Linked DNA regions of Homo sapiens: regions 2 and 3 are each linked to region 1. Evidence: fine-mapped expression QTL. A gene starts in region 1. Each other region holds a variant in brackets. All regions are shown on one strand. Distances are from middle to middle. Region 1 holds the start of LINC03124 (long intergenic non-protein coding RNA 3124). Region 2 overlaps GPR39 (G protein-coupled receptor 39). Region 3 has its middle 140 kb from the start of LINC03124.

Region 1 (10,450 bases):
GACAGGTGCTTCTTGTTGCTTCAGTTCTAAGTATTTCATAGTTTTCAGAGATATGGAGAAGCAGCAGTGCTAGTAACAGTACCAGTAAAACCAGGATAAGCCCTAAAATAATTAAGAAGCCATCGCATGCACACACGTGAACGTTTGACTTCAGCTAAAATGCTTTCAAGTGTACTATTTTATCTTTACACAAGGTTATAATACAAATTAAAGATTTAAAAATATTTTCACTTTATATATGTGAAAACTGCAGCTCAAAGAATTTAAAAGACATGATTGAAATCCCATAACTAGGTAAACATGGTCAAATCTGGAGCCCTCATGTCTCGGTCCCCCCACGCCCTGTTACAGAGAGTGCGAGGCTTCACCAGGAAGCTCTTTCGGCTCAAGGATTAGCTCTGGGGAAGTGCTGCAGGCAGGCCTGCTTTGCATCCTTTTTCCAGCAGAAATCCTATGTTTGTTTCAAGCTTCTAGTTCTTTTTGTTTTGTTTTGTTTCTTACCAGCACGGCTCTGGGAGTTATTTACACAACTTAATTTTAAGAGAGACAGTCCCCATCACTAAGGTTCCTTGGAAACTTATCATGCAAAAAAATAAAAATAATAAATGCTGGTAGATAAGCATACAAACCACTCAGGAGAAAGACAGTGGCCACTCAGGTCATCAGGTGAACTTGTGACGGGGCCATCAAGAGGCTGCACGTGAGCTCCAGAAAATGAAATTCCCACTATCAACCTATTTTCCATTTCCACCCAATGCCCCGCCCCTGCTCCAAATCAAGGTTTCCGCCTCTTAGAAATGCTTGATTTTCAGTATTGCTAAACAGGGGTCAAAGAAAACAAGCTGAACAAAGAAACAAATAAAGCCTTTAACACAGTGAGCAAAGACACAGCACCCACCCCTTCCCTGGGCCCCGCAACAGCTCCAGAGCTGCGCAGCTGCTCCCAGAGCCTGAGCATGGACCTGAGCTCTGGCCCATGGAGCTCACCAATGCATTTCTTCCCTCTGTGTCAAAAAAGCATCAAGAAATTGGATTCATTTACCTGGGACATAAAATAAGGTATACCTATAGTTTTGTCCCAGAACTGTGTAAACCGGCATGCTGCCTGCCACAGTACAGTCCTCCCCCTGCATCAGGAGCTCAGATGGGGGAAGCCAGCAGGGCTGGAGGCCTGGGAGTCACAGATGCTTGGAGGGGAGAGAAAAGCACCACAGAGAGCCAGGCAGGACCTGCCTACAAGTCACATTTTTAGGGGTCTAGTGGTCTGGGCAGGCTGGGAGATGCTCTCTAAAGGGAAGGCAAGAAATATTGCCCCACATCTCCCACCACCAAACAGAAAGTGCAGGTGGTCAGCCCCAGGGCTCACCTGCCCTTTGCCAGGGTCATGAGCTAGGCCCAGCCTGCACCCTCCACACAACCATCAAGGGGACTTCCTGTCAGGCTGGGACAACTGCACCGGGCCCTGATGCCCTGGGAAGAACAGGGTTGCATTTAACAGAAACAGCTAAACCTGAAGGGATGAGCTTGCCTTTCCCCAGGGCCATGGGATGGTTTATAGAAAGTTCTACCCATCAGGACGAGACCTCACATGACACCATCAGAGGAATTGATACCATGCCATAGAGGGAGGAAGAGGGCGCATGCCATAGGTCCACTGGTCACAGCACACACATGCTCCTGGGAGCTTCAGACCCAGCAGTTTGGCTCAGGTGCCAGGTCAGGATGTGGGAGGACACAGTGTCTGGGTGAATCTGTCACCCTTGCTAGCTGCCTTGTCCCACCAGGTAGAAGATGCGGCAATGGGAGCACAGCAGTAGGAAGCCCAGTGTCCCCCAACCTTCCACCTCACACCCAGGACCTCTGAGGTGCATCTATATCCTGCACATCTAGGCTCTGAAAAGCAGGAGGTCCTGGTTTCCACAGCTGTGGGGCTTCTAGACAGGACAAGGCCAAATTCTCTGAAAAAACAAGCTCTGGGTGCTGCTTTGTCCTCAGGCTGCTCCTCCATGGGACCTGCGGGCAGAAAAATGTGTACCACCTGGACCGTGGTTTCAGCAGAAGCAGGGTTATGCTGCCTGGGGCAGGAGGGGCTCTACACAAGCGCCTCTCAATACACAGCATTTGATGGTACGTGGACAAGTGTGGGAGCCCTAGACCAAGGACTCCGTGGTGAGCAAGACTCAGGACCCCTTAGGGGTGAGGGCCTGGGTTACACCACCAGGGGGTCACCCGGACCCTCAGCAGAAGGTGGAGGGGGTGGTGATCATTACCTTTGTGACCCTGCAATGGGTGGCAGCCACAGGACATAGGGTTCATTGAACGCACCTTGTGTAACTATTGCCCAGGAAAAGGCCCAGAATTTAATAAAGATGAGGCCCCTGGCAGTGAAGTGCTGGATGAGGCGCACCCCCTGGGGCATACCTGAACCTCCCCCAGGGCCTCGGCTGTGAGCTTTGATTATAGACACACCTGTGCCACAGCCCCTTCAGACTGCTCCCTTCACCTCTGAAAAACCAGACAGGATGCTTCTGTTCCTGGAAATGTGAATGCCCTTCGTGTGTTTTTTACTTTGACTATAAACTCATCTGCAACCAAAATATAGACTCCCACACAATAATAACGGGAGACTTTAACACCCTAATGTCAACATTAGACAGATCAACGAGACAGAAAGTTAACAAGGATATCCAGGAATTGAACTCAGCTCTGCACCAAGCAGACCTAATAGACATCTACAGAACTCTCCACCCCAAATCAACAGAATCTACATTCTTCTTAGCACCGCACAGCACTTATTCCAAAATTGACCACACAGTTGGAAGTAAAGCACTCCTCAGCAAATGTAAAAGAACAGAAATTATAACAAACTGTCTCTCAGACCACAGTGCAATCAAACTAGAACTCAGGATTAAGAAACTCACTCAAAACCACTCAACTACATGGAAACTGAACAACCTGCTCCTGAATGACTACTGGGTATATAACAAAATGAAGGCAGAAATAAAGATGTTCTTAGAAACCAATGAGAACAAAGACACAACATACCAGAATCTCTGAGACACATTTAAAGCAGTGTGTAGAGGGAAATTTATAGCACTAAATGCCCACAAGAGAAAGCAGGAAAGATCTAAAATTGACACCCTAACATCATAATGAAAAGAACTAGAGAAGCAACAGCAAACACATTCAAAAGCTAGCAGAAGGCAAGAAATAAGTAAGATCAGAGCAGAACTGAAGGAAATAGAGACACAAAAAACCCTTCAAAAAAATCAATGAATCCAGGAGCTGGTTTTTTGAAAAGATCAACAAAATTGATAGACCGCTAGCAAGACTCATAAAGAAGAAAAGAGAGAAGAATCAAATAGACGCAATAAAAAATGATAAAGGGGATATCACCACTGATCCCACAGAAATACAAGCTACCATCAGAGAATACTACAAACACCTCTACACAAGTACACTAGAAAATCTAGAAGGAAATGGATAAATTCCTGGACACATACACCCTCCCAAGACTAAACCAGGAAGAAGCTGAATCTCTGAATAGACCAATAACAGGCTCTGAAATTGAGGAAATAATTAATAGCCTCTCCCTGGGAATGGGCGGGCCTGGGTCCAGTCCACAGGGCCCCTCGTGGGCCCTGATGAAGGAAAGAGTTGAGATGGGGGCAGCGCTGGACCCCAGGGCCCCTGCCTGCCTCCTGGAGAGCCCGGTGACCCAGGCAGCCCTGGTGAGGCTGTGGGTGCCTGGGCCATAGCGAGGCCCGCGAGCTCCCACAGGACAGATGCGGACAGTGAGGCCGGGGAGGCCCTGCTGCCCTCCGAACTGTCCCTCCAGCCCCCAGCTTTCTGTGGTTCTCTGGGCCCCCTCTGCAGAGGGGCAGGGGAGCCCACCCTGGATCCTGAGACGCCAAGCTTGAGGGACCCCCAGAGCTCTAGCGAGGCTGCTTCCTTTGCGGATGGTGAAGCTGAGGTCCAGAGGAGGGCAGGGGCAGGTCCTGGGCGCTCCCTAGGCAAAGGGAGCCGATCTCCGGGAGGCGGTCACAGGGAGCGCTCCTGCGACTTCTAGGGCCCGAAAGCTGGGGAGGATGAGAGACCAGGGGCCTTTCGTCGTCCCCTGGGCTGGGCAGAGGCTCAGCCTGTGCCGCAACCCTAAGCGGCTTCTGGCAAGTCCGAGCCGCGGTCCCTTTAAGAGGGGGTGGAGCTTCAACCTGGCACTAGGGATGCTGCTAGCGTGCGTGTCCCTACGGAGCTGAGACTGCAGTTCCTGCGACGCCCCTGCAGCAGCAGCAGCGTGGTCAGAGCGAGCTTCTGAGCGGTGGTGGGTTCCATGTGATGGTGGAGTAGGAGACAGGTCTCCGCGGTCAGTGGCGGGGGCGTGGACCCCACCGGGAACCCTCCCTGCTCCTTCCCTGCCTCTCCCTGTTTTCGTGCCCGCACTTCTTCGTGGGCATCTGGGCCCGAGTCCTCCGCTTGGGGGCGGTTGTGCGGTCCTGGCTACTGCAGCGTCCGCACCCCGGCCGGGAAGGCTATGCCAATGTCCGACCCGCGTCCAGCGTATAGGAGCGCCCTGGCCCACAGCTGGCGGTAAAACGCGGGACCTGGGTCCCTCGGAGCCCCAGGGGCCTCTGAGCTGGAGTCTAGGATTATTTTTGATGCCTCAGCACCTTTAAAAAGAGACCTCGCTAGAGCAGGGGGCATCTGTATTTTCAGTTCTTTGAGGAGTCTCCAGCTATTTAGCTGTTTTCCATGGTGTGTATCCTAATTTTCATTTCCACCTACAGTGTATGAGTTTCCCTTTCTCCAAAACCACACCCGCATTCCTACTATTTTTGGTTTGGGGTTTGTTTTGTTTTTGTTTTTGTTTTGAGACGGAGTCTTGCTCTGTCTTACAGGCTGGAGTGCAGTGGCGCCATCTCGGCCGACTGCAACCGCTGCCTGGTTTTAAGCAAGTCTCCTGTCTCAGCCTCCAGAGTAGCTGGGACTACAGGCGCCGCCACCATGCCCAGCTCATTTTTGTATTTTTAGTAGAGATGGGGTTTCACGATATTGGTCAGGCTGGTCTCAAACTCCTGACCTCAGGTGACCCACCTGCCTCAGCCTCGCAAAGTGCAGAGATTACAGGCATGAGACACCGTTCCCAGCCCCTCCTATTTTTTTAAAAAAATCAAGGAATATTCGATAAGTGTGAGATTATCTGTGTGTGGTTTTGAATTACAGTTTTCTAATGAATAGTTGATTTTGAGGACCTTATCTCTTATTTGTTGTTCGATTTTATGGCTGTGCAGAATTGTCTGTTCAGGTTCTTTGCAAAATATTAGATTGGATGCTTTTGCTACTTTGTAGTGTTTTTTGTGTACATATTAGATGACAACTCCTCGTGAATTACAAGATTGCCTGAAATTTTTGCCTAATCTATAGGATGCTTTTTTAATTGGAAAGTAGTTTTCTTTGATGTGCAGAAACTTTTCATGTTGATGTAGTCAACATGATATTTATTTTTGCGTTTCATGCATGTAATTTTCGTCACCCATATAAGAAAATAATATGTCAGTGACAAAGCATTTAATTGTCAATGAGGTTTTTCTTCCAGGGTGTTTATTTTCCTCTTTGCAAAGGTGAGCAGAGATTCAAGTGACCCAAAATATATGCTCATCCTGTGTTTTAGTTAAAAACATTTTGTAGTTTATGGTCTTTTGTTTTGCCTTCAATTTGGGGGAGTGGGTGTTCATTTTCATACATCGTGTAAAATAAGGTCCTATTTCTCGCTTCTGCATCTGGATATCATTTTTGTCAAAGGTATTCATTCTCTGCCTTCCACATTGCAGTGTTCTTTATCAAAGTCAGTTGATTGTGTCCATATTTGTGTTGATCATGTTTTTGTCCTCCCTGTTTTTGTCCATAGTTTATGCAAGTATCATATATCAGCTGTATAACTACAACTTGGCAGTGTAATTTGATATTAAGGATTGTGGGTCTTCACTTTGTATTTCTCAGGATTCCTTTAGATATTCATTGCTTTTGTGGTTCCCTGTGATTTTTAGCAATACGTATTTATTTCTGTTAACTTTTTTTCACAACATAAAGGTCCATAATTAGGGGTACATTTTCATACATACAGATTGGGTAATGATCAAATCAGGGTACTTAGGATCTCTATTTGCTCATCCAGGTTTTTTTTTTTTTTGTGGGGAGAACATTCAAAATTCTCCCTTCTTACTCTAGAAAAATATGATATTGTTAACTCCAGTCACCAGGCTGAGGAGGAGAACCTCAGATTTGTTCCTTTAATGTTAAGATAACTTTGTTTCCATAATCAATCCTTCCCCATTCCCCCTCTATCTCCCAAACTCTGGTAACCAATATTGTGCTTTTTACTTCATTAAGATAAACATCTTAAGATTTCACATGAGTGGTATCATGCAGTGTTTTTCTAGGCCTAGCTCCTTACATTTAACATAATGTTTTCCAGGTTCATCTGCGTTGCTCTAAATGGGACTGTTTCATTATTTTGATGGCTGAAGAATATTTCCTAGTGTATGTATATGAGAGTTTCTTGATCTCTTTATCTGTGGATGAACAGGTAGGTTGAATTTACACCCAGTAATGGGACTGCTAGATGGAATGGTATTTCTTTTTTTCCTATTCTTTGCAAGACCTCTAACTGTTTTTTATAGTGTTAATACTAATTTATGTTTGCACAAACAGTTCCCCTTTCTGGCAATTCATACCAGGAATTGTCTTTTTAAATATTTTGATCTTTTTGTAATGTTCATTCTATTGGAGTGAGATAAGATCTGAGTGTGGTTTTGATCTGCATTTTTCTCATGAGTAGTAATGTTAACCACGTTTTTGTAGACATTCGGTCAGTTTCCTGTCTTCTTTGGAAAAATATCTAATCCGGTTATTTGCCCAGTTTTTGTCTGGCAATTGTTCTGTTGTTTTGTTATTTTTTTGCCAGCTGGTAGTATGACTGGCTTGTACCTTTTCAAAAATAATCCCTTATCCCAAACTTGTAATTTTTAGTGTGCCTTTTTATTTTGTTTATTGTTTCCTTTGTTGGTCACAAATGCTTCAGCTTGACGTGGTCCCACATGTGCATAATTTCTTGGTGGCTGTGCTGTTGGTTACTAATCAAGAAAAAACAAAATCACTACCAAAGCAGTCCCTTGTCAATAATTTTTTTCCCTTGTATTTTTGTTTACTTTTTGTGAACCCTGAGCATACATCCAAGTTGCTCTAAATATACGCACACCCGAGGTTGTCTTTATAGGAGCTTTATGGTTGCAAGTTTTGTGTATAATCTTTAATCATTTTGAGTTGATTATTGTGTATCTAGTACCATAAGGGTCCTGTATTACCCTTTTGCATATGGATATCTAGTTTCGGAAGTCTTCCCTGTTGTGTCATTTTGGTGGTGTTTTGAAAAATGTGTTCATTCCATATAAATTTTTGTTTATTATTGAGCACATTCATTTTGCTCACTGGTCTGTGTTTCTCTGTCTATGCCAGTAACATATGGGTTTGTTAACTACGGATTTTCATTTAATTAGAACTCAGGGAATGTGATGCATCCCGTATGGTTTGTATTTCTCAGAATAGCTTTGGAAATTCAGGGTGTTTCACATTTCCACATAAATTTTGGCATTGTTTCTTTATACTTCCTAAAACACTATTTGTCATATACTAAATGTATACAATTAGAAGGTACAAGGAAGGTTTTCATACATGTATATGTTGAATAATGATAAAATCAGGTTATTTAGCATCTCTTCATCTCATATAGTTATTATTTTTGGTAACAACATTCAGAATCTTTCCTTCCAGCTACTTTGAAATATATGATACATTTGTGTTAAGGCTAGTCACGCTGCTGTGGAATAGAAGGCCAGAATTGATCACTATCATCTGAGAGTAACTTTGTACCCATCACTGATTCCTTCCGAGACTGCCTCCACTTCCCCAGCAGCCTCTGGTAAGCCCTATTGAACTTTCTACTTCTAGAAGATAAAGCTTTTTTCAGTCTACATGTGTGAGATCACGTGGCATGGGACTTTCTCTACCAGGCTTATTCTTTGGACCTTGTTCTTCAGATTTCTTCATGTGGCTGCAGATGGCAGGATTTCCCAAAGGTTTATGGCTGCAACATATTCCGTGGTGTATCTGTACAGCAGTTTCCTCATTCCTGCAGCTGTGTTTGAACAGGTAGGTTGGTTCTCTACCTTGGCCACAGTTAAGAGTGCTTTAGTACCCATGGGAAGGCAGATAGCTCTCTTCAACCTAGGGACTTCAACTGCTTTAAATGTGGAACCAGTGGTGGGGCTGTTAGCTGACATGGTAGTTGTACTGTGAATTTTTTTCAGAAACCTCTAGCTGTTTTTCATAGTGTGTATACTAATTTACATCCCCACCAATAGCGTTTAAGAGGTTACCTTTCTGTAAGTCTACACTGGATGTCACCTTCAAAAATTCGTGTTTTGTTTTTGGTAGTACTCATTCTGAGTGGAATGAGACAGAATCTTAGTGTGGTTTTCATGGACATTTTTTTGTGAGGTTTAGTGATGTTGAGAAAGTTATTTGAGAAATCCCCACATTGCTTTCCATGGTGTCCGAACTAGTTTGCATTTCCACCAACAGCAGACCAGCATCCCTCCTCCTCTGCCTTGCTGGTGTTCATTCTTGTGGACTGTGTCATAATTGTCATTCATCAGAATGTGTGAAATACTATCTCATGGGCCTTTTGCTTTGCATTTCTCTGATGATTCCTGAGGTAAAGAAATGTCTTGTCTGTTGGTTGCTGTAAACCTTCTTTTGAGATGCATGTTTTCATGCCCCTTACCCTTTCTTCATTGAGTTTTTGTTTTTCTGATTTATTTGCTTAATGTATTTGAAGTAGATTCTGGATATTAGACTTCATCAGATGCAGATGTGGGAACATTTTCTCCCATTGTGTAGGCTGTCTGTTTACTGTGTTGGTAATTTCTTCTGCTGTGCAGCAGCTCTTTTGTATATTAGGCCCCACTTGTCAATAATTGTTTTAGTTGCAATTGCTTTTGGGGACTTAGGCACAGCCATGCTCTGCCAAATCCTCTGTCAAGAAGGGTATTTCCAAGTTCTCTTGCAGGCTTTTCATAGTTTGAGGTCTTGCGTTTACATCTTCATTCATCTTGAGTTAATTTCTGTACAGGGTGAGACACAGGGGCCCACTGTTTTTCTTCTGCAACTGGCTAGCAGTTTATCCTGGCACCATCTATTGAGAGGAGGGAGTCCTTTCTCCAAAGCTTATTTTCGTGGATTTTTTTGAAGATCAGATGGTGTTAGGGGTGTGGGTTTACATCTGGGTCCTCTAATTTGTTCCACTGCTCTGTGTGAAATGGGGTCCCTAGCTTTTCAATGAAATTAAAAATCAGGAAGTGTGACACAACCAATGTAGTTTGGACTTCTCAGGATTGCTTTAGAAATTCAGGGTGTTTTGTGGTCTGCATGAATTTTAGCATTGTGTATTTACGTATTTTTTAAAAGGTTGGCCATATAGTAAAGGTATACAATGGGGGGAGTTAGAGTGGGGCATTTTGGTTAATGCAGACATAGAGGAATGTTAAAATCAGGATATTTAGAGTCTCTGTTATCACAAAGTTGTTAATTTCTTTATGGTGAAAACATTTGGAATCTTCTTTTCCAGATTTTGTGAAAAAGATGTGATGTTTTGTTAACCTCTGGTCACTGTGCTGTGGAACAGAGAGGAACAATTCATTCCTCTCATCTAAGTGTAATTTTGGACCTATTTCTGATCCCTGCCCATACCCCTGCTTCCCTCCAATCTCTGGAAACCACTGTTATGCTCTCTAGATCTATTGCAATAAAGCCTTTTATTTTGGGTTCTACATGAGTGAGATGTGGCAATGTTTTTCTTTCTCTACCTGGTTTAGGTCATTTACCATGCGGTCCTCCAGGTTCAACAGTATGGCTCCAAATGATGAAATTTCATTCTGATTTTCTGGCTGAAGACTATTCTGTTTGTGTATGTCCACCACAGTTACTTTATCCCTTCATCTGTGGATGGGCAGGTAAGTTTATTCCTTATCTTGGCGATTGTGAATAGTGCTGCAGTCCACATAGGATGGCTGACATCTCTTGCATAAACTGATTTCTTTGGCACTGAAAGTATACTTAGTAGTAGAATTGTTAGATGAAGTGGTAGTTGTAGGTTTAATTTTTGGAGGAACCTCCCACTGGTTTCTGTAGTATGTATACTAATTAACATTCTCTTTTTTTTTTTTTTTTGGATGGAGTCTCGCTCTGTTGCCCAGGCTGGAGTGCAGTGGCATGATCTCAGCTCACTGCAAGCTCTGCTTCCTGGGTTCATGCCATTCTCCTGCCTCAGCCTCCTGAGTAGCTGGGATTACAGGCACCCGCCACCACGCCTGGCTAATTTTTTGTATTTTTAGTA
Region 2 (10,141 bases), 960 kb after region 1:
GTGGTGGATGGAGTTGCACTGGGGAGAGAGTTCTTTCCTGGGCTCCATCAAACAGCTGGAACAAGGATGAGACATCAAACCGTCTGTCTTCATGGACAGAGGCAGCCATCTGTGGCATTTACATCATTTTGAAGTTGTGGCCTGCGCCTTTCTGAAAACCAAATCCCAACAGTTCTTCTGTCTTCTAAAAGAAATTCCTCAGTAGGAAAAAGGGCAAGAAGGAAGATCTGCATAAACGAAGACCTCCAAGCTGCAGGTCACTAGAAAAGTGATTGCAAAGTTTCCAAGAAAGTCCTAGCTTGGACTTAGACCTTGTCAGAGGACATGGTACCTGGATTTAGCTCTCAGGGAAGGTGCAGTCAGTCCATGGTCAACTGCATCCCATCCATGCCGCTCCCAATGCCTCTCTGCCTTCCGTTGACAAACTCAGCAATGGGCGGAGATTGCCCTCTCTGCCACCTCCCTGTTAGCTATTAAGGAACTGGCTTGAAGCTGACCCAATTGCCTTCTCAAGATGATCCGAATAAATAATGGGAAGGGAGAGGTGTGGGCTGGGAATGGTTGCACATGGCTTGATTTGTGGTGATCTTGAATAAAGATGGGTAGGGAGCAAGAGGGAAAAATAGAAGAGAAAAGAGATGTGATTGCTTTACATACTGGAGAAACATGTACAGAAAGAGGAGAAATGGAAGCAAAAAAGGAAAGGTGGGGAAAAATAAGAGGAAAGGGGAGGGAAAAAGAGACAGAGGGAGAAAGGATAGGAGAAGAAAGAAGACAGGATGAGGAAGAGCTGTGTGTGGAAATAAGTGGGACTGGCAGGACGGTTGTCTAGGAGTGGAACCAGAGGGAGGGAGTTTGGAGCTACCGTCTGCTTTGACTGTAGACACTGATGAAAATGTGATGCTTTAAAGGCTTCAGTGACAGTGCTAGGGTCCCTACAAGTGCCCACTGAGCCAGGGGCTCCACCTCAATTTATGCTTCTCTTAGACCAGTGTTCTCCAACTTGTGTGAGCAGCAGAGTCAACAGAGGGCTTGTTAACCCCAGATTGTGGGCCACACCCTCAGAGTCTCTGATTCAGGAGATCTGGGTTGGAGCCTAAGAATTTGCATGTCTAAGAAGTTCCCAGGTGGCGCTGATGCTGCTGTTCCAGGGAACACTCCTTTGAGAATTCTGTCTCAGCCGTTAAAGACTAAACCAAGGTTGGTGCTGATTTGGACGCCTCGGGTCAGACAAGGTCAGTGAGTGAGATCAACATCTCAGCTGACTTGCAGAAGCAGATTGCAAACACTAACATATAAATTGAGAAAGTGCTAAAATCTTTTATTGGATGTATTTGTCTCTTTCTGGCTCTTCATTCAACTAACCATATGCTTACTTTCCACTGGCAATTGCTATTTAAATGTCAGTTGACAAGCAGATGCTTCTCACCCTACTACATGCAAGTTAATTTATTGTCCACAAAGCCTGATGGAGTGCTCTCTAACCATGCTGGTTTCCCACTGTCCCCACCCACCCTTTTGTTGCAACCACGCTGAGCCTTGCAGCTCACAGAAGGTAAGTTGCCTTTGTGTTTCTCCATCCCCTGCTCATGCCCTGTCTCTGCTGGTGCTGCCCTTTTCCAGGCTGACTCTTACTCTCCTTAACTTTCTGTGTGAATGTTCTTGCCTGTGGGAATGTTTATCCAGCTCTTGTTGCTGCAGTGTTGTTCGGCTCAGACCATTCTCCTAGCCCTTAGAAAACCAGGCTGGGGCCACCTTGTACAGCTCAGCTTTGTATCATCAGTCCCTAGGACAGGATCCTTAATAGGCCCCAGCCATCAAGAAGCAATTGCCAAGTAAATAAGCAAAGTACAGAGAACTTGAATGGGGGGATAAAAGGGGGATAAGGGCTGGGGGCTGGTGGGGAGGTGGAGATGTCTAACCCTTGCTCACTATGGTCAGGATTAGAGAGAAATTGAAAAATAGAGACAGGAACAGGCAGGAGGAGGACAGAGCAGACATAATAATCACAGAAATCCTAAATCATCATCAACATACCCCTGCACCCTCAAGGCTTCAATGATTCCATAAAATGGGACTCCAACAGTAAGTAGAAAAGCTAATATTGGGAATTTATTTAAATTACACAAAATATCTTTGCTTGGGAGGTGATCAACTTTCCAGATATTTTGTGCTTAATACAAGCTAAGTATCCATTTTTAGTAGGTACTTATGTAAGATGGATGGACGGATGAATGGGTAGAAGAGAGATGATAGATAGACAGATGGAGTCATTGTAGGCTAGGTCACCAAGTCATGACCTGAAGTAATATTTTGTTTTAATCTTCTTTGGCTCCCTTGGGCTGGGACTTTACCTTCCTTTGAGCAGGAAACGTTCTCCAGAGTTTTGCCAAATGCCTGTTCTTGGAGGACCCGCTTCTAAAACTGAAGCAAGACAGTGCATAGGAAAGGTGTTGTATAGACATGCCACTTGCTGCATCCCATGCTGTCAATGGTCAGCACTTGAGTCTAAAGCTGGAAAAAAACCCTAAAATTACAGTTAAAAAAAAATAATGGGCTTGCTTGGCAATCGAGGGTA[GAATC/G]AATCCAGTGTTCTAAGTAGTATGACCACCCTGGCCCCAGGAGATCTTGGGCAAATCACTTAACCTCAGTTTGCTCATGTGTAAGACAAGGGAGTTACAAGGCTGGTCTCAAGGTCTCCTCTTGATCTCCTGATCTCTAATGACTCTAAGATGGAATTCTGGGGAACACACTAGTAGTTACTTTGACTTTAAAGGTTAGAGGGGAGAAAATAGAGCATGGTGTCAGATACATCAATGCCACCATGTCCCAGCCTGCAGAGCTTAATGCACTTAAGATGAAACCAAGCAGGCTGCCTCTAATGCTGTTGAAATGTCAGGCTTCAGTGCAGGGTGTTGTTAGACATCTGCATTTCTTCTGTTTTTTAAACAACATGACTCTGCCAAGAATGAATCTGTGTCATCATCTAATGGCTCTTGTCATTTTAGTGTAGTGATCAAGGAGGAAAAATGAAAGTACTTTATGTGGAAAACCAGATAAGAAGGTATTTCATAGCCCAGAGTGCAAGGCTGTCTGGAGTATAATACAGATCTATCAGTAATTCAGTTAAAACAGTTTACCTGCTTTACATGAGTGGGTTCAGTTCATTGATCTTCATTCAAGTTCACACTAAAGTTATTTAACTGTGGGCTGCACATTACACCACACAGACCAAAGAATTATAGATTTTTTCCAGATGTGATATACAAATCCAAATTGTGATTGCAGCCAAACATGCATTTAGTCAAATCTTTAATACACTCTATTAGGGCGTGAATAAGACTTTAAAGCTTTGTCTTAGCCACAGGGTAGCTGGGCTAGAGTAGAGCCAATCGCAAACAGCCAGAATAGAAAGTTACCTTGGGATGCAGTATTTATTCTCAACGGTGTATCATCTAGAACAACAAACTTTTTTTAATGTAAAAATGAGCAATTACTTGTCATTATAAAATGACAAATTTTACAAGGGGTCAAATTTGGTTTTCTTCCCCTGAGAGGCTCACCTCCATTACCGTGCTCACTGGTACATGTCTCATGTTTGTCATTGGCTGTACCTGTATGCCTAATGCTCCATTTTCCTAGAGCAAAACTATCTTTCAAAACACAGGAAGAAAAGCGCCAGCCATTTTCCCCACCTCCAGTTGAGGCAGGGGAAGTTTATCCCAACAGCCCTGCCAAGTAGTTGGCATGATCTGCATTATTCTAGGATAGCTAGGCAAAGTTTAGAATGAGAAATGCAAAATACATCCTTGTGTTTTCAGGATTATATAAGTTTTAAATGATTTAGAGTTCCCTTATATGGAAGGCTTTCTAGGAAAAGACTGGCTAACCCTGTTCCTCGCTATAGCTGAGAATGCATACTCAGAGATTTAATTCAGCATTGGTTGCATTGTAGTGTAACAAATACAGGCTATGTGGGAGGTTCCTTGGGGCTTCCTTGGTTTGATATAACTCTCTGGAATGTGGTTGTTAAAGGGACAGTTGGGGGAATGGGAAGAGGGGGAGCCTTGCTGCTCTGGGGAGGGGCTAGGAAGGATTCTTTTAGTGGGTGCTGTCCAATACTGTAGACACTAGCCACATGTGTCTCTTCCCAACTGAGGCATACTGTAAGAGTAAAACCTATACTGGGTTTCAATGACTTAGTATTAAAAAATGTAAGACATTTCATCAATAATTTTTATATTGATTGCATGTTGAAATTACATGTGAAATAATTATTTTGGGAGTGTATCGGATTAAACAGCAGTATTAAAATTGTTTTCACCCATCTCTTTTTCTCTTTGAATGTGGCTGCTAGAAAATTTAAAACTACATATATGGCTCACATTCTGTATTTCCAGTGAACAGCACTGTGCTATATCCATTTTACATGGTGGAATTATGGTGTTTACTTTCTTGCTTGTGTTTCTGTATTTTTCAAACTGAAAGTATGAATAGCAAACAATATTGTGTTTTGAGAAAAAAATACACAGCATGGATTTTGGAGTCTGGCAAAGATGTGTCCTAGCTATTGCACTTGGGCAACTAACTTTCTCTGAGCCTGCACTTCCTCATTTGTTAAATTAAGAGAATAACTATTTTGACCTCACCAGGTCAAAGCTCTCCAGGTTGTTGTCAGGAGTGAGAAATGCATGGGAAATTAGCAGAGTGCTTAGCACAGAAACTGGCTTAGGAAAAACTCAGTAATAAATATTCTGCATTATTATAGGTTATTTCAAAACACCCATCTGGTGCACAATATGAAAATCTCTGCATTTCTAATTCAGGTCTTTGTCTCTCTTGTTCTACAAGTTTGTTCTTGCTATTATATCTACCTACTTTTACACCCAGAAAACCAAACTTCCCCTTCTTTGCCTCATCATTGTGACTCTGAGTTGGTTTTCTGTTACTTGTTCACACTGAGCTTCTTCCCACTTATTTTTGACTTCAGAGCAGGAATTTTATCCTGGCTACAAACAACACCACAACTCTTTATCTACCCCTGCCTTTGCCTTGTACCTGGAGGCTGGGTCTTGCTTTTTACTGAACTCTGCTGCTTTTGATGGGATGATCAGTGAAGGACAGTTGACACCAGGCCAGTGCATGTGGGAAGCTGTCAGAAGAGTAAGGGTCATGTAAACAACAGATCAAGAGAATGAGGAGCAAAGACAGGGCAGAAGAAAAGCAATGTTATCATTCTCTCCCCTTGTTTCACAAGCCTGCCTTATCTTCTCATTGCCTTTGTCTGTTGGCTTTAAAAGCTGTGCTATGTTCAGCTCATGGTTAGTACAAGGTGTTTCTAATTGCCTTTCTGGATTCTCACCGCCTGAAGTACAACCTCCCATGGTGTAGCACAGTTCACATCTAAAACCGTGCAATTTCCATATTCTGGGCAATAACTCCTCAGATGAAGATGGTTGTACATGTTCTCTGAAATTCAGTGACAGGAAAGAGAAAAAAAATGCAAAACTTTGTGAAAATATGTGGCTTCCTCAGGTATGGTCTTTTTCCTAGTTCTTTCACAATTAATGAGATGAGCCTCTCAATCAGAGCTGGATGAGATGCAAACAAGGAGCAGGAACTTAAGATGAATTTGGAATAGCACAAGTGGCTGGGAACACCTGTACTCCTCGAAGTGGGAGAAAAGTCCCGGATTTCTTATGTATTTTTTTAAAATCAGAAATTTTTGTTGTTGCTGTTGTTGTTCCTATCCAGCATCTGTAACTAGGTGATTCAGAATAAACTCTTGAATTAAGATGGTATTTTTTTAACCATTTTTTCATCAGATCAATATGTTAGTTCACTTATTTTAGTTTTAGATTTACTGGATGTTCTCAGGATAGCAAACTCAAAGGAAAAAATAAACAAATTGGCTTATATTTCAAAGTTTTAGGCTGGGAGTTGACAGGAGAAACCTGTGGAAATTAACAAAGGAGAAGAGTTTCCAAGGCCTTCCTTGCTCACATATGGATTTGTGGAGGATTTGAACACAGCTAGGGTCCCCTCCAACAGCAGGCAAGGAATACTCAGGCCAGTGCATACAGGAGGCTCAATTCTGGATGTGTGAATGTGGCTGTTTTTTCCTGGAGCATTTATTTATTGGTTTATTGAGACAGTTTCACTCTGTCAGCCAGGCTGGAGTGCAGTGGCACATTCGTGTCTCACTGTAGCCTTCACCTCCTGGGCTCAAGTGATCCTCCCGCCTCAGCCCCCAAAAAGTATCTGAGACCACAGGTGTGTATGTACCACCATGCCTGGCTAAGTTTTTCTTTTTTTGTAGAGATGGGGTCTTGCTATGTTGCCTAGGTGGGTCTCAAATTTCTAGGCTTAAGTGATCCTTCTGCCTTGGCCTCCCAGAGTATTGAGATATCAGGCATGCGCCACCATGTCTGGCCCCCATTTATTAATAGAATATTTACCATGGGTCATAGGCAGGAAGCATTCATTGCCAACTGTCACTTCCCTAGGGTTTCTAGAAAATCAGAAGATTGAAAATGTGAGTAAATGTTTCTTACTACGATTGAAATGTAGGAGAGGAAGGAAGCATTTCTGAAAATGCAAATCCTGCTTTAAGGTAGCAGCTCTCTACAGGGGAATTTACTGTGGGTGTCTTGGCTCCTTACGAAAAGAGAGAGCAAATGCTTCACAGATCCCCTGATCTTCCTTTGTTCTTTTTTGCTTTTGTCACTGTAACTAAACTCTCATGATACCTGTGATTTCAGTTGTTTGTGGTCTATGTAGCATCTTTATCTCTGTCAGTCAGAATTGCAGAACTGGTGGTGGTTACTTAAGTTGGAATACAAATATGTGGGCATGCAAACAAATGTACATGCAGTAAACATTTGATCTACAGAAGGGCCTTTGAGTGGTCTCTTCTCTAGGGCCTGATTGCTTCTGGGCTGTTGACAGCACAGCTCAGTGCTGCAAAGGAAGGGAACATGTTACTGGCTGAACTAGAAGGAAGTTTTATATTTGCCATCTCTGAATAATTCTTTTTCCCCACATGAGGGATCTAAAAGTGTCTGAAAAGAAACACATATGCTGTTGCAGATATGAGCATCATGATTATAGGTGTGCATACCTAGTATGTATATGTCCAAAAAACATTCTTGGCGACAGGCTATTCCTGACTTTGCTTCCCCTGAAACTGAATGCAAAACCAGTGTCATTAAATATGCTGCTTTGTTGCCAAAGGGACACTTCTTCCATTTGATTTAAAAATATCACTAGGTCTTCTTTGTGCAGACATCCTTTAAAATACAAACACTGCTTTATCTAATGCAGCTATACTGTATGTATACATCTTTTTCTTTAAAACAAAAAAAGACAAAACCAGATTTATGGATAACATGAACTGCTTTCTGGATACGCAAACAAACACCAATGAAAACATTTTTTTAAAATTAACAGACATCAACTGGTATAAATACACTGTCTAAAGCATTTAATGGTCTTTCTTTAACACAGCCAACTCCCCCGGGTTTGAAACAGTGTTAAATTCTCTCTTGCTTGTGGCAAAAGAAGCTGTCAAGTCCAACACTGAAAAATTGGTACCATTTCCTGGCCAGTAAGCACAGAACAGAGGGGCTAAATATTTTATGGTTTTATTCATTTACTGTGTTCTCATGCTGTGTTTTTCTTTTCTCTGTCTCTCCCTCCTGCTCGTGTCTGCCCAGGGCTGATTGTTGTGACATTGGCCGTATGCTGGATGCCCAACCAGATTCGGAGGATCATGGCTGCGGCCAAACCCAAGCACGACTGGACGAGGTCCTACTTCCGGGCGTACATGATCCTCCTCCCCTTCTCGGAGACGTTTTTCTACCTCAGCTCGGTCATCAACCCGCTCCTGTACACGGTGTCCTCGCAGCAGTTTCGGCGGGTGTTCGTGCAGGTGCTGTGCTGCCGCCTGTCGCTGCAGCACGCCAACCACGAGAAGCGCCTGCGCGTACATGCGCACTCCACCACCGACAGCGCCCGCTTTGTGCAGCGCCCGTTGCTCTTCGCGTCCCGGCGCCAGTCCTCTGCAAGGAGAACTGAGAAGATTTTCTTAAGCACTTTTCAGAGCGAGGCCGAGCCCCAGTCTAAGTCCCAGTCATTGAGTCTCGAGTCACTAGAGCCCAACTCAGGCGCGAAACCAGCCAATTCTGCTGCAGAGAATGGTTTTCAGGAGCATGAAGTTTGAATGTCAAGCGAGGGAGCCTTGAGTGGGAACTGGCCCTCCAGCCCTAAGAAAACGTCACTCTCACTCTGCAGTCTCAAACTATGCCCCCATCAGGGATGGAATGGACACTGGAGGCTTTACAAAAGGCAGATGCCCACCTCAGTGACTTCTAAGGACTGACTCTGCCAGCCTGGCCTTGACTCCGGTTACACAGACATGGGGGTGAACTTTCACTCCACCTCCTTCCTTCAAGTACATACTGAAAATTCAGTCAGGCTGAATTTATTCAGAATGCTTTACCGAGCTCTTTCATTATTTGCACAGGAACAAAAGAGAACACGGACTCCCGCTCCCTACCCAGAATAAAAGGACACCCAGAAGAAACTCACTCAGGGAGGTGGGGGGTTGGGGGCGAGGGCTGGAAGAACAATGCAGGAGGGGGTGGCATCTCCTTCAGCTTCAGCAGTGTGCCGAGAAGAGGGCTAATTTGAGGAACAGGATGGTGGTGCGGAGCCCTGGCCTGAGGGCCGAGGCAGAACTTCCCCTTTTCTTGGGCCTTGGCCCGTTACAAAGAGGGGTGTTGCAGCAGCTGATGCAAACTGAGTTCAGTTTCCCTGGGGAGCAGAAGGACTGGTACCCGGCAGAGGCGATGAGACAGGCCGCTGATGATGCACAGGACTTGCGGTACATGATCCCTGTAACACAGACCCAAAGGAGCTGAGTTAACGTGCACCGGCAAAAGAATAGCTGTCCCTCTCAGCCCAAATCCAAACGGACAGCTCTTCCTTACTCCTCCCACAGCCCAGAGACTAGGTGAGGTCAGGGAAGTGCTTCGGATTGTCTCATTGATATTCAAGATAGATGGTGAAAGAGACAGGCACTATTTCATTAGTTTTAACAAAACTGTTCCAAAAGCGATTTGAGATGCCAATACCTGTGAATACCTGTTAATAAAGAGCTGTTAAATAGACTTATTTACATTTTAAGTCAGAGTTCACACTGTGTACAAGACACAGCTTTTTATTTACTTTGTTTTTGGTTCAAACTGTCTCATGCCAGTGAGGCCCACAAGCAGTGCTTCTAGATTTTATCTCATTTTGCTTTATAAGCGGCCACAGAGCGCTGGCTCTCAACTATGTGTTGATGAAATCCTGGAGTTCTTTGAAGACAGACCAAATCCCGAAGGGAAATAAATGTATCCCTACTGAATGGGCCCTGAGTTTTCCACGGGATTTAGTGAAGGGGCACCTGGCTGACCGTGTGTCCCTCACAGTCTTATTCTAAGGAGAAACGCTCTGTCGTCAGGACACATGGCCATCTGCCAAGCCAGTACCACGCAGCTAGCACTCAATGACACACACTGGGTGCAAAAAAAAGCTTCCCAAGAAGACTAGGGGGCCTGTCTCAAAGAGCATGTGTGTCCTGTCAAGCTGCAGTATAGTCAGTCATCAAATTAGGGTGTCTTAATCATAAGGTGGAAGTTTATTCAATTCAAATAATACTAGCTAAACTTTTATTTAAGGGCTTCCCTGTCTGTCTCCCAGGCACTATTCAGACACCCTTAGCGTGTCAGCTTCTTCACTACCCCAAGCAATCCTACAAGGGAGGCCCTCATGATTACCCCCATTTTACAGATGTGAAGCCTCAGGGCTAGATTTAGTAACTTGCCCAAGGTCACATGAACAGGAAGTGGAGCAGCTGGGATTTGAACCCAGCATTCTGGCTCCATGCTGTCAAGACGGTGTTTACTGTATAGCAGTAAATTGGATTGCCAATTAACCACAAAAATAACCGGGGATTTTTTAGGGGGAGAGGGTTTACTTTGAAGATAGCTTTTGTTGTGTATGTATGTGGCTTTTTTTTGAGACGGAGTCTTGCTCTGTCGCCCAGGCGCCCGCCACCACACCCGACTAACTTTTGTAGTTTTAGTAGAGATGGGGT
Region 3 (10,450 bases), 140 kb after region 1:
GGTGGGCCCTAGCCAGAGGCACTGCACAGCAGCATCCTGGGTAGAGGTGCCAGGAGGGCAGGCCTGCCTTTGAGGCTGTGAGGCAGGGCTGACGCAGGCAGTGGCCAGTGGAGGGAACCAGGTGGGTGCCAAGGGGCTACATGGCCTCTCCCAGACATGGGGTCAGGCTGGGGGACATGGGTTGGGCAGACACTGCCATCTCGACTGCATTGGCCCATCTGTGGGCTGGGAGGGCAGCTGGGAGTGTGGCCAGCTGGGAAGTAGCAGGACTCTTGAGGAAGTGACGGTCACCTGCATGAACTCAGAGCTAGAGGACACACAGGGTGGCCAGGGGGAGGCTGCAGTGCCCTCTGCTGTTGGGGATGAAAGGTGCCTGCCTTGAAGTGAAAGGGTCCCTGTTCAGCTATGGGCTCTCAGCAGGGCCCTCAGCAGGGATGTCCTGAAGGCTCCTGACAAGCTGGAAAGCAAGGAAGCTGCCTTGCCTGGAAGTCAGGATCGCCCAGCCAGGTTGGCCATCCCATGGCCTGGCTGCGTGAGGCCCTGGGGATAGCTGTCCGCCTACCCTGCAGGGAGTGCCTCTCCTCAGCCATCAGCTGATCCAGTGCCCAGAAGGTGTCTTCCTCTGGCAGATACACGAGGAGGATGGCAGTTAGGCAGCTCATGTCCCTGTGCTAGCCCACCTCCTTCAAGAGCCAGAGTCACCATGGAAGCATGTCACCTGAGAGGGCTGAGGCCATCTGGGAGGACTCATGTCACTGGAGAGGACAGAGGTCACCTGAGAGACCTCCCTCAGGCCCTAGGGGATTTGGGGTGCAGACTCTGCACCCCTCCCCTGACCCTGGGCATGAGGACTAAGCAAGTCCCCCAAAACTCAGTTGAAAAGGGACCTGGAGGGACTTCTGCAGTGAGTGTCCAAACTCACATGGTCCGAAGAAGCACAGGCAAGGATCATTCATGTCCCCTATCCTGGGCCAGGCTGGGAAGGCCACTGTGCCAGGCCTGGGGCAGAACCTGTGAGCTGCACCCACCACAAGGGCAGGCAGTGGGCCACTGATCACCACACAATGCTCCTGTGATGGCCCAGGGGCTGCCTGCCAGGCAAAAGAGGGCAGCTGGGTCCAGACCCCAGGTGCGCAGCCCATGGAGTGAGCTCAGTGGCTCTCCCTGCCTGGAATGGTCTGGTACCAGAAAAAAAAAAGTTTATAGAGTTAAAAAGGTACAGTAAGGTAAGGTTAATTTATTGCAAAAGAAAGAAAATATTTTTAATAAACTTATTGCAGCCTAAGTGTACAGTGTTTATAAAGTCTCTGGTAGGGTAGGTCATGTCCTAGGCCCTCATATTCACTCCCCACTCATCACTGACTCACCCAGGCAACTTCCAGTCCTGCAAGCTCCATTCACGGTGAGTGCCATATACAAGTGGACCATATTTTACTTTTTTTTTTTTTTTTTTTGAGATGCCCAGGCTGGAGTGCAGTTGTGCAATCCTGGCTCACTGTGACCTCTACCTCCCGAGTTCAAGTGATTCTCCTGCCTCAGCCTCCCAAGCAGCTGGGATTACAGGGGCGCACCACCACTCCTGGCTAATTTTTGTATTTTTAGTAGAGATGGGGTTTCGCCATGTTAGCCAGGCTGGGCTCGAACTCCTGACCTCAGGTGATCTGCCCGCCTCTGTCTCCCGAAATGCTGGGATTACTGGTGTGAGCCACCATGCCTGGCCTTATTTTACCTTTTATATTATATTTTTACTGTACCTTTTCTATGTTTAGATACACAAGTACTTACCATTGTGTTCCGATTGCCTACAGTATTCAGTTCAGTCACACGCTGTGTAGGTGTGTAGCCTAGGAGCAATAGACTATACTTGTATAGCCTAGGTGTATAGTAGGCTATACTGTCTGGGATTGTGTAAGTACATTCTATGGTGTTTGCACAGAAATGCCTAGCCATGCGTTTCTCCGAACATATCCCTGTCATTAAGTGATATATGATTGTATAGTTTTGTATCTGTAATCGTACACATACAGTATAAAGCAGTTTGCCTTAAAATTACACTTACTTAACGCATGGCTATACAATTTTATAAAGCATTGATTTTGTTTATAAACCCCACAAACGGCCGGGCGCGGTGGCTCACGCCTGTAATCCCAGCACTTTGGGAGGCCAAGGAGGGCAGATCACAAGGTCAGGAGATCGAGACCATCCTGGCTAACATGGTGAAACCCTGCCTTTACTAAAAATACAAGAAATTAGCCGGGCATGGTGGCGGGTGCCTGTAGTCCCAGCTACTCAGGAGGCTGAGGCAGGAGAATGGTGTGAACCCAGGAGGCGGAGCTTACAGTGAGCTGAGATTGTGCCACTGCACTCCAGCCTGGGTGAAGGGTGAGACTCTGTCTCAAATAAATAAATAAAAATAAACCCCACAGACTTCCTCCTTCAGCTTCTTCTTCGACTGGTTTTGAGTATATTGCTTGATAATATTACTTTGGTTCTTCTATTTTTCTTTTCTGACTGGCTTAGCCCTTAGCATAAGCCAAAATCACTGAACAAGTTATATCCCTGTTTCTCTAGAAAACTTGATTGATAATTGAACTATGATTCAAGAGTTCTAAATATTGATGGGAGGAGAAGGCGGAAAGTCGCAGGCATCTCTAAGAATCTGATGAAAATTCACAGCTAGTATGGCACTCTCAGGTGAGATTTTTGTCTCATTAAATGGGAAATAGCTTTGGGGTACTGGCTTGAGTCAACAGGGTCATATGAATCAGCTGTAAATTGTCACCTGGATTAGGTCAGAGGGGTCATAGGTATCCCTGGACCTTGAAATAAGGGCTCTGTCTTAGGGCAGTCACTCATCTCTTTGAACTTCAGTTTCTCAAAATGAGAATGACAATGATGAAATTTGCCCTCTGGAAGCAATGTCCTGAGGTGCTAGCCATCCATTTGGAAATCTGTGTTTGCTTGTGTGCACAATCAAAACAAGTGTAACCTGTCTGTTCCACTGACTCTTCAGAGGTTGCTTTTACCACTAGGACTTGTAGTTTAGTTTACCGTTGGAGTGCTTTATTTAAACTCTAATCTAGTTATATAAACACACTTCAGCACAATTTATAGGCTTGCGATTCTTTCTATCATGCCTGGCTCTTCTTTTTTCTTCTTGAAACAAACTCTTGAGTCTAGACTTTGTCAGGTTGATACATGAGTTTGGGGACTGTTTATATGGAAACCATATACATATTCCAGAAGCCTGCCTTGTTACTGATCTGCAATAAAGATGATAACCCTTTGACTCATAAAAAGACACCCAAGATATCCTTTGAAGTGCAAACCCTGATCTACTACTGAAAAGGGGCACAAAGAGATTCCTCAAAACTGGCCTTGTTGCTTTAAGAACAGGTGACTATTAATGAGAGAGCAACTCTATGGGAGAGAACTTTCTCATGATACAAACTGTTAGCAATGCAAGCAGCTGGAGAATCTGTAAACAGTGACTTTCCTCCCGGGGGAAGTGCTTAAGCAAGACTGATTGACCATCCTCAAGAAACAGTATGAAAGGGATTCAATCAATCAGTGGGAAAGAAGATGGATTTGTAGGTACCTTTCAATTCAAATATCCTGTCTTCGATTTCTCTAATAAGCCTAGGAAGACAGGATTGTGCTAATGACTCAGTCCTAAGGAATAGATCCTTGTAAACAGTGAATGTGGCCACCCTACCATTGGTGATGTAGTGCAAGTGATGGGGGTATATGTGTGGTAGTCCACTGGGTGTTTTAGGCCAAGTATGTAGTCCAAAGAACACATTTCTAAACTTTTAAAACACAGACAAATTATACTCAAGAAATCAATGCTCAGTGACTGTTTCTTGCCACTGCAGAAAATAAACTAACATAGAAATGGCCAAACTTTACTTTGCCAATCTGTCATAGACTACAGACTATTAGGAGGGGGATCTCAGTAAAGGTCAGGCCTAAAGCAATGAGGAGAGAAGGGGAGCTCTTGGTCCTTCAGAGAGGACCGATATCACAGCGTGATGACAGTCCAACTAGTACCAATGCACATGAGAAGCAAATCAGTTCCTGAAGCTTGATGCTATATATTCATCAAAAATAAATCTGAAATGCATTACCTGTTCTCTTCTGAATCTCATATGGATCAGTATCTGAAGAGCAATAAAGTTCAGGAGCTGTGTCTTCCAATACAAATGACTATATGACTATAAATATAGATAAACATAGATATAGATCTAAGGATATATGTACATATATTATTTTGGCCAATAATTTCTTCTCTTTCAACTACCAGAAAGTAAAAACATAGAGATAAAACAGTGGTGCTTTTGTTACTTCTTTCTGGGTTTTACTGTTGTTATCATTTTTCTTTTCTTTTGTTTTTTTGAGACAGGGTCTTAGTTTATCACCCAGGCCAGAGTGCAGTGGCGTGATCACAACTCACTGCAGCCTTGACCTCCCAAGGCTCAAGCGATCCTCCCACCTCAGCCTCCTGAGTAGCTGGGACTACAGGTGTATGCCACCATGCCCAGCTGATTTGTGTATTGTTTTTGTAGAGACAAGGCCTTGCCATGTTGCCCAGGCTGGCCTTGAACTCCTGGACTCAAGCAATCCACCTGCCTTGGCCTCCCAAAATGCTGGGATTACAGGTGTCAACCACTGCTCCTAGCCTTCTTACTATCTCCTGTGTACTGATGACTCACATCCTACTATGGAATAGATACACTGCTTTTGCCTTCCCAGCATTGAATCCTCTTTGTCTAGAAACGACACCTTAGTTTTCCTTTGGGGAACCACATCACTCTACGCTTGAGTGATTCTGGTGGGACAAACCCCATTGCTGGCTCCAGATATGAGCTAGTAACCTAGGTATGCTGATATGGTTTGGCTGTGTCCCCACCCAAATCTCATCCTGAATTGCAATCCCCTTAATCCCCATATGTTGAGGAAAGGACCTGGTGGGAGGTGATTGGATCACGGGGGCAGTTTCCCCATGCTGTTCTCATCATACTGAATGAGTTCTCATGGGATCTCATAGTTTTATAACCATCTGGCATTTCCCCGGCTTGCTCCTCTCTCTCTCTCGCTTGCTGCCATGTAAGACGTGCCTGCTTCTCCTTCTGCCATGATTGTAAGTTTCCTGAGGAGTCTCCAGCCATGCCCAACTCAGTCAATTAAATCCCTCTTCTTTATAAATTACCGAGTCTCAGGCATTTCTGGATAGCAGTGTGAAAATGAACTAATACAATAAATTGGTACCAGACATAGGATACTGTATAAAGATACTGGAAAACGTGGGTGCCCGGCGGTGGCGTCAGGATCAGCGTCTTCATGTCGGGGTCGCTGCTCCGCACCAGGGGCGGCCACCAGGGGCTGCCGGCCGCCAGCGCTACCTTGGCTAACTTGCGCACTGTTGGCCCATGGCTGGGTGGCGTGGGCGCGGGCAGGGCGGATGTCCCCAGGGGCGCGGTGCTGGGTCCCACGGCCACGGACACGCTGAGCAGGAAGCTCTGCCGGCTCGTAGAGGC[G/A]CCCAGCGGCTTGCCAGCTCGCGTATGTAGCTGCCCAGGGGCGCTGCGTGTGTCGCCAGCTCACGCAGCGATAGTTGGGTGGGGGATAGCAGCAGCCCCTCCAGGCCAAAGCGCAGGAAGTTTTCGGCTGAGCCTGGACTTGGGAAGCCCAGGAAGAGCACGCTGCGCCTGCGCGACAGGAAACCCACACCAGCCATGGGCGAGAAGGCGCGGTGCACTGGGACACTGTCAAGGCAAAACTGCAGCATGTAGCGGCACACGCTGCCCACGCGGCCGTACACGCAGCGCGCCTTGTGGACGTCCCAGTCCTCGCCGGGCACAGGCGTGAGCAGTAGTAGGTGTAGCAGCTGTGGCAGGACTTGACGTAGAGGCAGGCGTTGAACATGGTCTCTGTGTGCCAGCAGCGCGCACTGGAGCAGGTCATCAGGTCGTCTTCGTCGGCACTGGGTTCCGGGGACATGTCGGCCACCTCTCCCGGGGCCGCGGGCTCCTGGACGATGCCGGCGGAGGCTGGGGGCGAGCGTGGCGGCACCAGCGCGGGGGCCCCGGAGCCCGCGGGCCGCGAGTCCAGCAGTTGGCACAGTTGGGGGCCCAGGCAGTGGGTTGTGGGCTCTGAGGCCTGGCTGGCAGTGGGTCGCAAGTCGATGACCAGGTCCTTGATGAGCTCGTACAGCTGCTCTAGGATCCGCTGGCGGCCAGAGGTGGGGCCGTCGGGGGCCGCATGGGGAAGTGGCCGCGTGCAGCCCCCGGGCAACTCCCAGGCCCTGGTGCGCGCTCGGTGGCGTGCAGGTCATTGTCAGTGATGGTGATCTCGGGCATCACGTACCAGTTGCGGCCCGGGCCCTCACCCGCGCGGCCCTTCTCCGTCAGCGACGTGTCAGACAGGGACAGTGGGGCATAGCGTCTGGGCGAGGTGGACAGGTTCACGACGACGGGCGGGCACCAGCCTTCGGGGGACACGCCTCGCGGCTCCCGCACCTCGCGCCCAGCAGGTTCTCATAGCTGCGGCCACGGCCCAACTGGTCTCCGCACGGCCCGGGGCCAGAACGTTGTCCCAGGAGCACGAGTAGTGGCGGCTGTCGGTAGCCAGCCGGGGTGGACTGGTGCCGGTGCCGCCATGCCAGGAGGCGAGCAACGGGTCGGGGTCAGAGGACTGCACCACTTGCAGGGTGCGGTAGGGTCGCAGGCCCCAGTCCGCCCAGGCTGGGCTGCTACGCTGGTGCGGGTACGTCCGAGCCAGGACGTCACGCTCACGGTATTTTCCGAAGTCCTCCGTGTAAAAAGGGCGGGCGGTGGAGTGGGCCCGGGGCTCCTCAGGGACATAGCCGGGCCCATAGGGCAGGCCGTAGGCTCGGGGAGCCTCCCCATAGTAGGAGCGGGAGGACGGTTCCTGGATTGGGAAGGTGCCCACCTCTCCCGCGTAGTAGCCCCCCATGCACCTTGGACTGGGCCCTGGGAGCTCCTCCGACGGATAGGGCCTGGGGCAGTAGGCGTCGAAGGTTGGACCGGGACTGGCCGCAAAGCTGCCCCGGAAGCCTTGGGGCTCCTCTGTATAGAAGAACTGGGTGGGGCCCGGAGGGGTGATGAAGGGCAGACTGCGGCGCTCGGCGTAGTCCCGGGGCCCAGGCAGGGGCCCGTCGCAGTAGAACGCCCGGGGATCCGCACAGTATGAGTCGCTTGGCGTCGGGGTGTGCGACAGCGCCATATGGAGGGGCCCGGGCACCGTGAGGCCGTGGAACTGCGGGGCGGGGCGGGCCCAGGGCGCGGCCTCGGCGGGCCCGCAGGACCGTGAGCCCCAGGCGGCGTGCTGGAGCACTGCGTCGTCTGGCTTGATGTCCGGAAGGAGCGCACGTAGGGATAGGGACCCGCGGGTGGCTCGGGAGGTGCGCGGCGGCCCGCGGCGGCGCACAGGGGCGCGATGTGGCCTGGGCCGCCCAGCTGCGGCTGCAACTTGATGGGACGCAGCTAGTTGGCAAGGGCGCGGCGATGCCTCGGCCCGCGCCGCACGCTGGGCCTCCCGCCCTCGGCGGGGCAACACGGGCGGCAAGGCGGGCGCGGGCGTCAGGCCCGGGGGCGCGCTCTTGGAGCGGGCGCGGCGGCGTGGCTCGGCCTCGCGGGTCCGGGCGCGCGGCACAGCGGGCTCCGGGGGCGGTGGCTCCGGCAGGGTCTCCGTGGTCGGCCGGTCCAGCGCCTCCAGGAAGTCGAAGCTGGGGCAGTGGCGCTTGTTGAAAGGCGCGGGCTCAGCAGGCCGGGCCACGGATCGCTCACATGGCGAGCGCTTGGAAGCGGGTCCCGGGGTCGCCACCTTGATGTCCTGGTACACGGTCGACACCAGCAGGTCCGGAGCGTCCGTACGGGTCATCTTAAAAGAGGTCCTCAGGCTGGCGGCTCCAGCTCACACTGCCTTGCGGGGCTTTTGCCCTGGGGGGAGATGCGGGTCAGGGCGGCCCCATCCGCAGCCCAGGCCCCGCTTCTCCCCCACGCTGGCCCGGCTTACCTGGGGCGCAGCGGGCGGAGCAGCCCTGGCTGCGGGCCTGGGCCGAGAAAGCGGGCGCTTCCTCCATGCCGGAGTCAGAAGCACCTGCGGGAGGAACCCAGCTGTCCAGGCGCCCGTCCTGCCCCTCCCCCATCCTCTCCCTGCGATGGGGCGGGCGGGCCAGAAAGGCTTAGTGGTGGCTGTGGTTCCCGCGTGAAGCTCCAGGGCCTCCCCTCCCTCGACTAGTGACCGCGGGGCCGGCTCGGGCGGACCCCTTTCCGGGTGGGGTAGGGGAGTGGGGGCGTGGTCCTGGGGCTGCACCCTCTGGTGTCCGCAGCTGGAAGGACGGACCGCATTTGGGCCTTATTTATAGGTGTTGCCCCAGGAGACGTCAGTGACTGCGCCCCCGTCACAGGGCCCACTGCAGAGCGACCCCTCCGATCGTGCACAGTCGAAGGCGAGTCCCTGGGCCTCAGCCTTAGCCGGCTCTGCACCAAGTGGGTGACACCAACTACCCCACCTGCTGGCCGGGCCGAGCACAGAGCCCCGCCCCCAGCACTGCAAGGACCCACGCCTAGGTGCCCTCAACTTCCCGTGAGCCCCAGGCCAGAAAAATGCCCCCAGAGAGCATACCTGGGCCCTAAATCTCCCTTTCCTTTGCCGACACCTTTTCTGACCCCAAGTATTTTTGGGTGGTTGAAACAAGGCCCCAGCTTTGTGTAAATGCACAGGACACCCCCCTAGGGTTTGCACGGCAGTCCCAAACCATCGAGCCACGAGCTCGTGGCAGCCCCTCTCCTCTGAGCTGCGCAGCAGGCCCAGAAGCTGCCCACTGGGGGTGGGCAAGGCGGAGGGTGGGGGAAGCCCCACTGCTTTGCAGGAGAGGGCCCTCCCCATTTCACTCAGAAGGTTCCATGGAAACCTGCGTTTCTTAGGCCCCCACGCTGCAGGCTGGCCAGGGTTCAGATGTGGGTTGCCAACCCCTCTGTGGTCCCAGAGCCAGCTGGGGGATGCGTCAGAGAGTGGCCACAGGCCTGGTCTCTGCACGCCCAACACCTGGTCTGGGGGGGGGGTCTACCCCAGAGTGAGCTGGGGAAAGCGGGTACCTGGCCAGGCCCCTTGCAGGGCAGAACCTCAGGTGAATGGGCCTCTCAGGGTCTGGCCGGGTCCCCCCTCTGTGTCCCAGGTGTGCAGGGGCTTCCTGCTGGCAGGGCTGTTTTTCTGGGTCAGGGCCACGAGTCCCGGGCCTTGTGCCCATCCCAGCCTCCCCCGCCCACCCCATCTCCCCCCTCCATCCCACCCGTGGCAGGACTGTCTACCCTCTTGCTCCCTCTTTCATGCTAAGCTCAAGGCCAGGCCGGAATCCGGCCGGATGACAGGGTGTGAGGCTCCACCCCAGGGAGGTGACAGTCGGCCTTGCTGGCTGCAGCTGTCGGTGACACCCCCTCCCGTGGGGATGGGGGTGGGGTCAGCACTCTCCTGGGCCCAAGGCCTTCTGGAGCCCACGGGGATGGCTGGCGGCCTTCCCTGCCTCCCAGCCCTGCCTTGCCTTGCCTTGCCCTGGCTGGGAGCGGCCCTTCAAGGGATACAGCTGGTGTTGCCTGGGGACGGGGAATCCTCATCCTTCCGGCCTCCCTAAGGCAGCCTCCCCTGCCCATGACAGTGACACACTCAGCAACTCGGCCCCTAGCCCCTTACCTGGGTGCTGCTCCAGCTGTGCCCCGGTGGGCTGTGCTACCCCCAGGTCGACTCCTCCTTGTCCCTGGCACTGCTGCGTCTCCCCGGCACCAGCAGAAGTTTCCAGGCAGCAGCGCGGGTCCTGACCTGGCTGCTCAGTGCTGCCCCCGATGGCAGCTGAAGGGGCTGTACTTAAAGGGGCCACACCCAGTGGGGGCTGCATGGTGGAGCTGGGGATCGTGAGCTGCGCTGGCTCCAATTTGGGGATGTGCAGAGCACAGGGTCCCTGCAGCACCCCCAAGACACAGACCTCAGTGTCTAAGCAGGAGTCCTGTGGCCCGGAGCAGCCTGCCAGTCCCGCCAGTGTCACCCCAACACACTTGCCTGAGAGGAGGGGCCCAAGCCCTGGCCTGGGCTGCAGAGATTGGTCAGGGGCATCTTGGAATTCGCATCTCCTGTCGGGCGAGGCAGGAGCAGGTGGGCTACTCTCTGCCCCACTGGCCTCTCCCCAGCCCCTATCGGCTTCAAGGCTGCCAATGCCAAAATCTTGGCGGGTACCTGGGGCCAGATGGCCCTTGCAGTCTCTTGTGTCCCCAGGATGCCATCCTCTCTGGGTGAGGCCACTCCTGCATCCAGTGTCCCTGCCAGCCTGGGAAGGCCTGCACGTGACCTATCATACCTGCCTGGTAATGTCATCGTCCCACTCTGCCAGCCCCTCCCAAAGGCATTGGGCCTGGGAACATTCTAGCTTGGCAGAGGG

The links. PIP is the estimated chance that this variant, and not a neighbour inherited with it, causes the effect.
Region 2: its variant is fine-mapped to the expression of LINC03124 in lymphoblastoid cells (CAP, PIP 0.95). The same link has a PIP of 0.9 or more in lymphoblastoid cells after a statin.
Region 3: its variant is fine-mapped to the expression of LINC03124 in whole blood (INTERVAL, PIP above 0.99).

What each region holds. Positions count from the first base shown.
Region 1 is chr2:131,678,237-131,688,686 of GRCh38, forward strand. LINC03124 (long intergenic non-protein coding RNA 3124) reads left to right here and starts at 4,263. Exons shown (of 10, transcript NR_167889.1): 1 at 4,263-4,752; 2 at 6,473-6,583; 3 at 7,828-7,975; 4 at 8,094-8,205; 5 at 9,930-10,067. RefSeq lists an enhancer at 3,696-3,815 and a silencer at 4,186-4,235.
Region 2 is chr2:132,637,386-132,647,526 of GRCh38, forward strand. GPR39 (G protein-coupled receptor 39) reads left to right here. Exons shown (of 2, transcript NM_001508.3): 2 at 7,716-9,197. The coding sequence ends at 8,221. LYPD1 (LY6/PLAUR domain containing 1) reads right to left here. Exons shown (of 3, transcript NM_144586.7): 3 at 5,901-8,895. The coding sequence ends at 8,660. Among named protein-coding and RNA genes, the nearest start is that of LYPD1, 28 kb to the right of the region's middle. The variant GAATC/G (reference allele first, on the strand shown) is at 2,579.
Region 3 is chr2:131,822,238-131,832,687 of GRCh38, forward strand. It overlaps the pseudogene LOC647996. Among named protein-coding and RNA genes, the nearest start is that of LINC03124, 140 kb to the left of the region's middle. The variant G/A (reference allele first, on the strand shown) is at 5,538.